Linked DNA regions of Homo sapiens: regions 2 and 3 are each linked to region 1. The links come from fine-mapping of genetic effects on gene expression. A gene starts in region 1. Each other region holds a variant in brackets. All regions are shown on one strand. Distances are from middle to middle. Region 1 holds the start of LRPAP1 (LDL receptor related protein associated protein 1). Region 2 overlaps LRPAP1 (LDL receptor related protein associated protein 1). Region 3 has its middle 21 kb from the start of LINC00955.

Region 1 (4,192 bases):
CTGAAACTGGTCAGGCGAGCACCCAGCACCGGGGGACAGTGCAGGGGCAGCCCGAGGGTAGCTGGACCAGTGCAGGGGCAGCCTGAGGGCAGGTGTATTGCTGCAGGAGGCCTGGGCTGACAAAGACAGAGGACCAGCTGGAGGTGGCTGGAGGTAAGGTGGAGCGCACCAGGGCGGCCCTGCAGAGCAGGTGGAAGACTTGGGCCAGCACCCAAAAGGGAGCCGCTGGGGTTCCTGGGTCCGAGTGCACTTCCTCAGCGCCACCTCCAATCGGTCAGGGAGTCTATTTCGGGCTCCCCATTCCTCATGGGGAGGGGGGACTCCACCCACTCAACAGATGCCCAGTGCAGTGGGCACGGGGAGGCAGCACTGCATCCCGGCTGCTCCTGGTCACACCTGTTCCCTGCTGCTGGGAGGCCATCAACACATCCAAACCCAGCCGTGTCCCCAGCCCCTCCAGAATCCCTTCCTCCAAGAAGCCGCCCTGCCGCTCCAGCCCAGAGCGTTCTCCCACCTCCCACCTCCGCAGGCTGAACATTACGCCTGGGGCTTGACTGCTGGTCCCAGGAGCAGTTCAGGAAGGGCCTGTGGAGCTGATGCCCAGGCGTCAATCCCCATCCCCACGCAGTCTTATAACCGTCTGTCGTCTGTCTGTCCCCCACCTGTTTCTCCTCTCCCTTTTCGTTCCAAAAGTTCCTTCTTATTCTGCAAATCACTTACTTTCCCTCTCAAAGACTCAGGAATGCTTAAAACTGGACTATTGAGACAGAGATCTAATCTGACTCCTGCATTTGAGATGAGATAATGAGGCCCAGATGGTCGGCATAGTTCGAAAACACCCATTTCAGGTGTTTTCAGGAACACCTAACAAATGAAGCAACCGTATCTTAATGAAGAGAGCAGCTGGCCCAGGGTCACGCACCAATTAGGAAGCTGTTGTCCCGGGGGGCCCCACCGGCCGAGCCACCTTGGGGGTGCCCTTTCCCCTCGGGGCCTCCGTACCCTCATCTCTCAAATGAAGGAGAGGTCAGGTGAGCGCCCTGTTAAGACTGACTTTCAGCATTCCCAAGGTCGCGTTTTATGTGCTCTAAACCGATCCCATCTCCTCACCTCCTCATTTCTCGCTCAAATGAACAAGCACGGGCTTGCTACTGGGATTCCTTCTGTCCCTGGACACGTCTTTCTACCCAACATTTTGTTTTTCTTGTTTCCCCACATAGGGAGATAAGGTTGAGGGAACAGGCAAAGGCTCGGGAGGCAGGAGACCTGTGATCTAGCCTGGTTCTGTCCCTACGCTCGGGTCAGCAGGCCGCCCAGGCTGGGGAGGGCGACACTGACCCTCGGGGTGCCGGCCGCCACCTGCTTCACACGGCGTCGTCGCCGGCACGGGTACCTTTCCTGCTGCAGAAGGGGTCGGGGCGCCCCACCTGACACTTGGGGGAGGCTGTGCCAAGGACAGGGCGCGTAGGGCACAGGTGCCCCGGCTGCGCCCCCCTCCGCCTCCGACCCCTGGGCCCCGCTCCAACGACCCCAACCACGGCCCCCGCCCCCAGGCCCCGCTCCACCGACCGCGGGCCGCGCTCACTCGCTGGGCCTTCTCCCACAGCTGGTTCAACTTCTCCATGCGGAACTCCTCTCCGGACTCGCGTTTCGGGGACGGCTTGGGCTGGTTCTTCTCCCGCGAGTACTTGCCGCCGTGGCTCGCAGCGGGCCAGGGCCCGAGGAAGAGCAGCAGCAGTAGCAGCGCCGGGAGCCCGCGCAGAAACGACCTGACCCTCCGCGGCGCCATCTTCCTCTGCGACTGGCGCTGCGCGGAGAAAACCTAGCCTGCCGATGCCCCGCCCACTACCCCGCCCCCACCCACCGCGCGGTCTCCTGGGAATTGTAGTTCCTCCGTGAGCGGCCGGCAGCGGCGAGGCCGCCGGCGGACTCCAGCGCCTAGGAAGCCCTGCGCAGGCGCAAGCGTTTCCCAGGCAACCACGCCGCGGCCCGAGGCTGCAGACTCTGGCAGGGGATACAACTGGAGAATGAGGGTGGCCGGGTGGGAGCAGGGATCAGGCCTCACCCAGAGCCCGGAGCCTGGAGCCCGCACGACTCGAGGCCTCTTTCCCTCTCTGCCCCACAGAAAGAGCGGAAAGCCCAAGAACCGGGCCGCGTTTGGCTGAGCCTGATAATGCTCCGGCTTCACGCGCACTGACGCCGACTCTTGCATGTCCAGTGCCGTTGCGGGGTTGGCACTGCGGCCCGGGCCTGGCGCTGAGGAGCCTGGCCCAGCCCGCTTCTGCCCTCCGCGGAGCGCCTGGCCGTGGGTAAGCCCAGGCCAGGTTGTCCCGGGGACGCAGGGCCGCGCAGACGTCCCCCTACGTCCCGGGGCCCCTGCCCCAACCCGCGTCCCAAGCGCCTGCTCTCGCGCCTGCTGCAAGGCAGGACTTCGCGCGCTTTTCCCCAACCCATGACACTCTAGGAAATTCACAGAGCCAAAGTTAGCATAGACCGCTCGTTGGGGGCTTGGCCAGTGAGTTGGGAAGTGCCCTGGAGGTAGCGCGGGAAACAAGGGGAAGGAGGGAGACAGACAGCAGCTGGGCCCCTTTGGGCTCAGAGAAGGGACAAGGGGAGCTCATCTGGCAAGAATGATCTGAAAAGGCCTCCAAGGGTGGGCGGGATTTTGCGGGGGGAGGGAGGAATTTCCAACTGGAGGGACAATGACAAAGGGGGTGAATAGAGCCTGGGCATCTTGAGAGGAATTAATGTTAATTCATTTCCTTTTTTTGCGTGGGGGGATAGGGTCTCTGTCATCGAGGCTGGAGTGCAGTGGCATGATCATGGCTCACTGCAGCCTCGACCTCCTGGGCTAAAGCGATCCTCCTGCCTCAGCCTCCCAAGTAGCTGGAACTATAGGTGCGTGTCACCACGCCCAGCTAATTTTTGAAATTTTTTGGTAGAAATTAGGTCTCCCTATGTTGTCCAGGCTGTTCTCCAACTCCTGGGCTCAAGCAACCCTCCCGTCTTGGTCCCCCAAAGTGCTGGGATTACAGGCGTGGGCCACTGGGCCTACCCTAATTTACATTTAAATTGTATCTTGTGTTGTTCCAGAGAAGATTTCAGGTCCCTGGAATCAAGGTGATCTGCTTCTGTCCTGTGCTGCTTTTCTAGTATTTTCAGAGCCATCGTTTCATTTCTTTTTTTCCAGCTGTTGAGTTGTTTCAGGCAAGAGGGTAAATTCAGTCTGTTACTGCATCTTAGCTGGAAGCACAAGTTCCCAATATGGGATGTATGGGGGAGAGGAGGTAAAGGAATCCCCCAGGAGGGTGGTGGAGGGAGAATGACCTCATGCGAAGTGACTCCAGAGACAGATCAAATGCTGTCATTGCCATCATTGCATGTTTTTAAGCCTCAGGACAGAATGGCCAGGTGAGCCTGGCCTAGATTCTCACCTGTGCCTGCCTTCCCCTTGTGTTCCCTCGTTCCTGCTCTTCTCTCCATCTCCTGGTGCCTAGAATCAGAGGTCACCTGTTTTACCCCACATACATGTTTTGCCCTGACCCCACTCCTGAGAGCTACAGGTAGGTCTTGGTGGGCTTAGAAGGGGATAGTCCAAATTGGCCTATCCCCCCCAAGCATGTCCCTGTTGGTCATCTGGAATGTGGTCCTAACTGCAAATGTTCCAGCTCTGTGAATCCTGCCCCCAGTGTCTCTAGAAAGGCCCGTTATAAACCCACAGGAATTGGAAGCTGGACTGGGAGCAGAGTCTTCTGGGATCCTGCATCTGACAGTGGTGTGGGGTTCTAAGAGCCCTTTTCCTATACAGCCCGGTTTCCCAGATAACTAAGCAATATTTTATTCGTGGCTGCATACACAGGCAATGAAACTAAAGAAAGTCAGGGGATGGCTAAAGGATGGAGGATACCTGGGCTGGGGGAGGAGGGAGAATGCGACGGGTGAACACAGACAGGCTTCCAAAGTGGTGTCCAGGTTGTAGTTCTTCACTAGGTGGTGGGCACACAGGCATGCATTTTTCCTTATCTTTAAATTGTACATATTTCATACACTTCTCCGTATGTATTATACATTTCAAACTAGTACATCTTCTAAAAAATCACAGTGGTTAATGCAATCAGTACAGGTGCCAGGCACATACCAGAGACTCCAGGTGACGGCATGCTCTCCTCTTGGGCTCCTCCTCTAGGGCTGA
Region 2 (4,192 bases), 24 kb before region 1:
CCACTAGAACGGAAAAATAAAAAATAAAAATTAGATTTCATCAAACTGGAAACCTTTGCTTTCCAAAAGATAACCATTAAGAAAGTAAAATAGCAAGCCAGAGGATCGGAAATTATTCACAACACATATCTGAGGAAGGACTCACACCTAGACCTGGGAATAACGCTAAGACCAGGCTGGGTGTGGCGGCTCCCGCCACCTGTAATCCTGGCACTCCGCGAGGTGGAGGCAGGTGAATCACTTGAGACCAGGACTCCGAGACCAGCCTGGGCAACACAGCGAGACCCAGTCTCTATAAAAAAAACCTTTTCTTTAAATTAGCAGAGCATAGTGATGCATGCCTGTAGTCCCAGCTACTCAGAAGACCGAGGTGGGAGGCTCGCTTGAGCCCAGGAGTTTGAGGTTGCAGTGAGCTATGATCGCACCACTGCACTCCAAGCCTGTGCGAGAAAGATCCTGACTCAAAAAAAAAGACAAGATTTCCAAGACCCAGTTTTTTAAATAGGCAAAAGAATTAAGTAGGCCCTTCCCAAAGACGCCACCCAAATGGCCAAGAGCAGACAAAAAGGTGTCATGCCTCTGGCACCAGGGAAGTGCAAGTTACTACAAAACGAAAACAAAAGAATCAAATGGATTTAATTGTCTTTTTGTTACTGATTTCCTCCTCAATTGCACTCTGGCCAAAGAATGTGATTTGTATTATTTACCTACATATCATATATTTATACATTATCATCTGCGAATTACTGACATTTGCTTTGGGTCCTAGTACCTCGTCCATTTTTAAAAGATTCCATGCGTGCTTAAGAATGTTTTCTCTAATGGGCATAAGTAGACCAAGTTTTTAACTGTATTATCCCATTCTTTCATATTCTTCATCAATGATCTAAGCCTCTATCAAAAGAACCTAAAACAAGGACAGCAAATTGAACACAAAATAGGTAGAAGAAAGGAAATTCATAAGAAAAGAGCAAAAGTCAATGAAAAAGAAAACAATAGAAAAAAAAAATCAATGGACCCAAAAGTAGGTTTCTTTGGGGAAAATATCTGTAAAAATGATAAACTCTTAGCTAGTCTGATCAGGGGGAAAAGAAAACACAAATGGCCCAGAGCAGGAATGAGAATGGACATCACTGCACAGAGGATACTGTGAATGATTTATGTAAATTGTTTTGATAACTTAGATGAAATTCTGCGACAAACCTATCTTTAAAAAAATGACAAAGGAAGAAACAGAAAATCCAAAAGCCTCATGTCTTTTTTTTTGAGACAGAGCCTCGCTCTGTTGCCCAGGCTGGAGTGCAGTGGTGTGATCTCAGCTCACTGCAACCTCCACCTCCTGAGTTCAAGTGATTCTCCTGCCTCAGCCTCCAGAGTAGCTGGGATTACAGGCATGCACCACCACACCCTGCTAATTTTTATATTTTTAATGGAGACGGGGTTTCACCATGTTGACTAGGTTGGTCTCAAACTCCTGACCTCAGGTGATCCATCCACGTTGGCCTCCCAAAGTGCTGGGATTACAAGCGTGAGCCACCATGCCAGGCCTCATGTCTATTTTTAAAAATCAAGTTCTTAATGAAAAACCTAAGCAAAAAGAAAATGGCAGGCATAGATGGCCTCACCCATCACATCTCTATGAAACAAATAATGCCAATCCTATACAAACTATGGCAGAACTTGTTTCAGGAGGCCCACTTAATGCAATATCAAACCATGACAGACACATCACATGACAAGACAATGAACATCCAAGCCCAGTGTCCCTCAAGAGCATTCCTACACAGGAGGTCCTTAGCCCGGTATGAGCAAATCTCATCTGGCCATGCAGAGAAAAGGCCAATGCACCATGGCCACAGGGACTTACCTGGAAATGCCAGGTCATCTTGGCATATGAAAGTCAGCGTAATTCACTACAGTAATGCGGTAA[G/C]GAAGTGACCTCATGAGCATCTCACTAGGTGCAGGAAAGGCAGCTGACCACATTCAACACGGATTCAGGAAAAGCCCTCAGCAAATGAGGAAGCTCTTCTGCCTGTAAGTGCACCAGTGCAAACCCAACACTGAGCCGGGAGAGACTGAGCCCATGTTCACCGAGACTGGGAATAAGATTAGCGAGCGCCGGCTCACCTCACCAGTGCAGTGAGAAGCCGAGGCACAGACTGACAAGGGGAAGCAAAGCCACTGTCAGACAGAGGACACGCGTGTGCACACGGAAACCCCACGAGTCCACAGAAACACCGCCATGGCCAAGGCGGGAGTTTAGGGCACAGGATTAAAGCACCACGCACAGGTGACAAATGAAATAAAAATACACAGTCCTCAATAGCATATCGAACACCTAGGACTAGATCTAAAGGAAAACATGCCAGACACATGCACAGAAAACTCCAGTTCATTGTTGGGAGAAGTTGAAGATGAACTCAATACCTGGAGTCATACATGGCAGTCAACGCATGGACACCGGAGACTGTTGAGACGCCGACTGGAGTCACACACGGCAGTCAACGCGTGGACACCGGAGACTGTTGAGACGCCGACTGGAGTCACACACGGCAGTCAACGCGTGGACACCGGAGACTGTTGAGACGCCGACTGGAGTCACACACGGCAGTCAACGCGTGGACACCGGAGACTGTTGAGACGCCGACTGGAGTCACACACGGCAGTCAACGCGTGGACACCGGAGACTGTTGAGACGCCGACTGGAGTCACACACGGCAGTCAACGCGTGGACACCGGAGACTGTTGAGACGCCGACTGGAGTCACACACGGCAGTCAACGCGTGGACACCGGAGACTGTTGAGACGCCGACTGGAGTCACACACGGCAGTCAACGCGTGGACACCGGAGACTGTTGAGACGCCGACTGGAGTCACACACGGCAGTCAACGCGTGGACACCGGAGACTGCTGAGACGCCGACTGGAGTCACACACGGCAGTCAACGCGTGGACACTGGAGACTGCTGAGACGCCGACTGGAGTCACACACGGCAGTCAACGCGTGGACACTGGAGACTGCTGAGACGCCGACTGGAGTCACACACGGCAGTCAACGCGTGGACACTGGAGACTGTTGAGACGCCGACTGGAGTCACACACGGCAGTCAACGCGTGGACACTGGAGACTGTTAAGACACCGATTCTTCCCAACATGTATTCAAGACATTCAGAAAAGGTATTCAAAAATGCGTTCAAGGGAATTGCTATTGAAATTCCAGAAGGCATGTTTTTTTGGTAGAAATTGAGACACTGATTGTAAAACATATATGGAAACACCAAGGACATAAACAGCCACAAGAATCTTTAAAAAGAAGAGTTGGAAAATGCACATCACCTCGATTCAGGGTTTATTATAAACCCAACTGTAGCCAAGACAGTGTGGCGGCCGGGCACCATGGCTCACACCTACAACCTGTAATCCCAGTAGTTTGGGAGGCTGAGACAGGAGCATCACTTGAGCCCAGATCAAGACCTGCCTGGGCAACATAGTAAAACCCCGTCTCTACAAAAAAAATAAAAATAAAAAAAATAAAATCAGCCGGGTGTGGTGACACACGCCTGTGGTCGCAGCTACTACTCAGGAGACTGAGGCGAGGGGATTGCTGGAGTATGGGAGGTCAAGGGTGCAGTGAGCTGAGATCACGCTACTGCACTCCAGCCTGAGGGACAGAGCAAGACCTTGTCTAAAGTGTGGCAATGGCAAGAGCGTAAGGACAAACAGAAACAGACCCACACAGGTAGGTCAGTTGATTTCTGACAAAGGCGCCAAATTAGGAGAAAAAAGCCTATGCAGCAAATAATCTGAAAGTTAAGGGAGAAATGGATCCTGACTGCAACCCACACTGGAAACGTACACTCCTGAGTAGGGACTGGATACACACGCGGCACACACCCACACAACAGGCCGCCACGCGGCAATCAGGAGTCTGCCGCTGATCCACGCAAAAGCCTGGGTGAATCTCAGATGCTGAGCGAATGTAAGCAGATACACGCAGACATACACAGACGCACGCAAAGACACAGACTGCCCAGAGCCATGCACGTGGAACCCATGGCAGGCGGGAGGTAGGGAGCTGCGGTGGTAGGAGTCAGAATGGGTACCCCTGTGGGACTGGCTCTGCGGAGTGGAGGGCATCACCTACATCCTTCGTGAGTGCGCACCATGACCAGCCACACCCATGGAACTAACA
Region 3 (4,192 bases), 23 kb after region 1:
TCACATAAATCAAGTAGTCAATTGTTCTGATCTGTTAGTTTTGCCTATCGTATGTGTACGCTGGAGCCCCTTTACTGTTTTTTTTTTTTTTTTTTTTTTTTTTTTGAGACAGAGTCTCGCTCTGTTGCCAGGCTGGAGTGTAATGGCACAGTCTCAGCTCACTGCAACCTCTGCCTCCTGGGTTCAAGTGATACTCCTGCCTCAGCCTCCCGAGTAGCTGGGATTACAGGCACACATCACCATGCCCGGCTAATTTTTGTATTTTTAGTAGAGACGGGGTTTCACCATCTTGGCAAGGCTGGTCTTGAACTCCTGACCTTGTGATCCAACTGTCTTGCCTCCCAAAGAGCTCGGAGCTCGGATTACAGGCGGGAGCCACCGCGCCCGGCCCTTTACTGGTCTTTTATAGTCACTTTCTCTCTAATCCTTTTTAATCTCTTTCCTCTTTCTTTCCATTTGCTCACTTTTTCCTTTTTTACATGATTTTCGTGGTGTCTCTGCTCTCGTATTACCTGTAACTTCATTTCTTCATTTCTGAAATGGTTTTGTCTTTTTCTTCAGTTTCCTTCCTGAATTCTGTCATTTCCTACCACAGACTCCGCTGCCGTTTGGCCACCTCTTCCCTGCGTTCTTATTCTGTGCTTATTCTCCTCTGTTCTTATTCTGTGCTGTAGTCTCCCTTCGGAGCTGAAGTTCTTGTTGGAATATTAGATCATGATTTTCATCTGGTTTGTGGCAGTATTTGTCTGATGAGATTTCTTCATTTGTAGGAGAATAGCACTGCTTTTATTTTTTATTTTTATTTTTTAAGACTGCAGCTTGCTCTGTGACGCAGGCTGGAGTGCGGTGGCACAATCGTAACTCACTAGAGCCTTGACCTACAGCCTGCACTCGAGCAATTCTGCTGCCTCTGCCTCCGGAGCAGCTGGGGACTATAGGTGCATGCCACCATGCCTGCCTGGGTTTCTTTTTTTATTTTTTTGAGAGAGGGTCTCCCTCTGTCACCCAGGCTGGAATGCAGTGGCACAATCTCAGCTCACTGCAATTTCTACCTCCTGGGCTCAAGCGATTCTCCCATCTCAGCCTTCTGAATAGCTGGGACTACAGGTGCACACTATCGTGCCCGGGAATTTCTTAGTATTATTATTATTTTTTTTTTTGTAGAGACAAGGTTTCACGATGTTGTCCAGGCTGGTCTCGAACTGCTGGGCTCAAGTGATCTGCCCACCTTGGTCTCCCAAAGTATTGGGCGTGAGCCACTGTGCCTGGCCTTTTTTTTTTTTTTAAGTTAGACACTTAGGTCTCCTTATGTTGGCCAGGCTGATCTTGAACTCCTGGCCTCACTCAATCCTCCCGCCTCTGTCTTTCCCACAAAGTGCTGGTGTTACTGGAAAAGGGGGGGCTCTGATCCAGACCCCAAGAGAGGTCTCTTTGATCTCATGCGAGAAAGACTTTGGAGCGAGTTCACGGAGTAAAGTGAGAGCAAGTTTATCAGGAAAGTAAAGGGATGAAGAGGATCTGAGGTCTCCTCCCCTCCCTTTTGAGACCTTATAAGGTAACCTCCAGACATTGCCATGGCATCTGTAAGCTGTCATGGTGCTGGTGGGGGTGTCTTTTAGCAGCTAATGCATTCTAATTGGCATATAATGAGCCGTGAGGACAATCAGAGGTCACTCTCGTGGCCGCCTTGGTTTTGGTGGGCTTTGGCCGGCTTCTTTACTGCAACCTCCTTTATGAGCAAGGTCTTCATGACCTGTATCTTGTGCCGACCTCCTATCTCATCCTGTGACTTAGAATGCCTAACCTCCTGGGAATGCAGCCCGGCAGGTCTCAGCCTCATTTTACCCAGCTCCTGTTCAAGATGGAGTTGCTCTGGTTCACACGCCTCTGGCATTGGGATTTCAGGCGTGAGCCACTGCGCCCGGCCAGCATTGCTTTTGGAAGTGGAGAGCGTGCCCATTCTTGTTACTCGTTTATTTGAATAGGATGGTTGTTCCGGCCAGGAGGTGCTGGGCCACGGCTCCTGGGAGGACCTCAGCACCACTCGCTCCTGTTGGCAGCTGAGCCAGCCCACCTTGAGGTCCTGTGCCTGGGTTACAGCTGGTGGTGTGTGGGTGCACAGTGATGGCCGGCCTCTGAGAGCTGGGGCGGGCCAGTGCGGCCTGACTCTGCCTGTAGGAAGCTCTAGAACAGGTCACGCTGATCTGCAATGAAAAGTCGCCTCTGGAGGGGGTGCAGTGGGGACTGATGAGCGCATATCTCGGGGGTGGTCAGGTTCTTATCTTGGTGGAGTCCGCTTTTGTCAACTCCCTGAGTGACACCCTTGAGATCTGTATAGCATGCTGGGTTGAACTGTGACTCCCAAATTCATATGTTGAAGTCTTGACCCCTGTATCTCAGAATATGCCAGGGCAGAGTCAGCAAAAAGAGGAAAATCTCCAGCCGGTTCCCCAGCTCTGAGCCTGTACCTGCCTTGGGGCCAGGAGAGGCTGAGGTGTGGGA[A/G]AAATGCATATTTGGGTTCCTCTGCCAGAGCATGGTCCTCCGTGGAGTCGGCCTCCTGCAGAGGGGAGCAGCAGGTGCTGTTGCATGCTACCGTCTCCCCTGAGCCTCTCAGGGTCTCCTTAGGAAGAGGGTGCATGTTCCCTCCCAGGTGCAGCTCACCCCTACCTCTGCCCCCCACATCTCCCTCCCCCCGCCCCAGGCAGCCCCCAAGACTTTCCTTGCCCTGAACTCCCATCTGCCTCCCGGGTCTGTCCTCTGTCCCTGGCTGCTCGGGTCAGCGTGGCCTCCGGTTCTCTCCCTTTCTGTCCCTTTTGCACTCTGGCTCCCTCTCTAGGCTGCGGTGCAGTGAGGACGCTGCCCAGGGCTGGAGGCTGGCGGGAGGTTGGGTGTGATGTGAGGCTGTGTTGCCGGCTGTTCTGGGGATGCTGACAACATTAGCGTGGCTCATGTTTATCGTGGGTCTAGCTCCCCTTGTACAGACATGGTCCTCTTCCCTTCCTCCGCGGAGGCAGAACCCTGATGCGTCGTGGGGCATGTAGCTGGCCAGAATGAAAACCTGCATCTCCCAGCCTCCTCCCTGAGGCTAAGTGGAGCCGAGCTGCTAAGTCGTGGCCAGTGGGTTAAAGGCAGAAGTGCTGTAGGAGACTTCCAGGAAGATGGCTCAAAAACAAGCTGACTCAGCTGGGACTTCTGGGAGGGGCCCTTTTCTGCCCTGTACTTTTCCAGCTTTCTTCCACCTGTCCTGTGGTCTTGATGGCTGGAGCACCAGCAGCCACCTTGGACCATGGAGTGGCTTTGAGGCTAGACACTATGCGTGGAGGACGAGGAGCAGGACAGCCAGGATCTGGGTCCCTGAGGACATCGAGGAGCTGCCACCTCACCCTCAATCAGTCATCCCCAGATTCTCCCTTCAGAAAGAAATCAGCTTCTTTCTTGTTTATGCTTCTTTTGCTGGGATTGTCATATGCAGCGAAACCAAACTGTGGAGTCCCGATCAGCTGATAGAAATGAGGAAGGGGTTCCCTCCTCTGCACAGCTCCATGGCACCACAGGCCCTAGCTGGCAAGAACATGAACTAGGGTCGGGGAGAGCCGTTGTTCTAAGAAATGGCTAACCACAAGCAGCCCGCTTGCACAACCTCATGTTACCAAATACCTCACTCTGCACGTTAGCTCCAGCAGCATGACCCTGTCTGCATGGGGCCTCTCCAGCGTGACCCTGTCTGCATGTGGCCTCTCCAGCGTGACCCTGTTTGCATGTCGCCTCTCCAGTGTGACCGTTTCCACATGTAGCCTCTCCAGCATGACCCTGTCTGCATGTGGCCTCTCCAGAGTGACCCTGTCTGCATGTGGCCTCTCCAGAGTGACCCTGTCTGCATGTGGCCTCTCCAGCGTGATGCTGTCTGCGTGGGGCCTCTCCAGCGTGACCCTGTCTGCGTGGGGCCTCTCCAGCGTGACCCTGTCTGCGTGGGGCCTCTCCAGCGTGACCCTGTCTGCGTGGGGCCTCTCCAGCGTGACCCTGTCTGCGTGGGGCCTCTCCTGCGTGACCCTGTCTGCGTGGGGCCTCTCCAGCGTGACCCTGTCTGCGTGGGGCCTCTCCAGCGTGACCCTGTCTGCGTGGGGCCTCTCCAGCGTGACCCTGTCTGCGTGTGGCCTCTCCAGAGTGACCCTGTCTGCATGTCGCCTCTCCA

What was found.
Region 2: its variant is fine-mapped to the expression of LRPAP1 in whole blood (TOPMed, PIP above 0.99).
Region 3: its variant is fine-mapped to the expression of LRPAP1 in whole blood (TOPMed, PIP above 0.99). The same link has a PIP of 0.9 or more in blood mononuclear cells.

Annotation. Positions count from the first base shown.
Region 1 is chr4:3,530,624-3,534,815 of GRCh38, forward strand. LRPAP1 (LDL receptor related protein associated protein 1) reads right to left here and starts at 1,799. Exons shown (of 8, transcript NM_002337.4): 1 at 1,586-1,799. The coding sequence starts at 1,789. RefSeq lists silencers at 1,289-1,538, 1,979-2,038 and an enhancer at 1,579-1,788.
Region 2 is chr4:3,506,758-3,510,949 of GRCh38, forward strand. LRPAP1 (LDL receptor related protein associated protein 1) reads right to left here. Exons shown (of 8, transcript NM_002337.4): 8 at 1-4,192. Among named protein-coding and RNA genes, the nearest start is that of LRPAP1, 24 kb to the right of the region's middle. RefSeq lists an enhancer at 2,092-3,291. The variant G/C (reference allele first, on the strand shown) is at 1,931.
Region 3 is chr4:3,553,601-3,557,792 of GRCh38, forward strand. No RefSeq gene overlaps it. Among named protein-coding and RNA genes, the nearest start is that of LINC00955, 21 kb to the right of the region's middle. The variant A/G (reference allele first, on the strand shown) is at 2,503.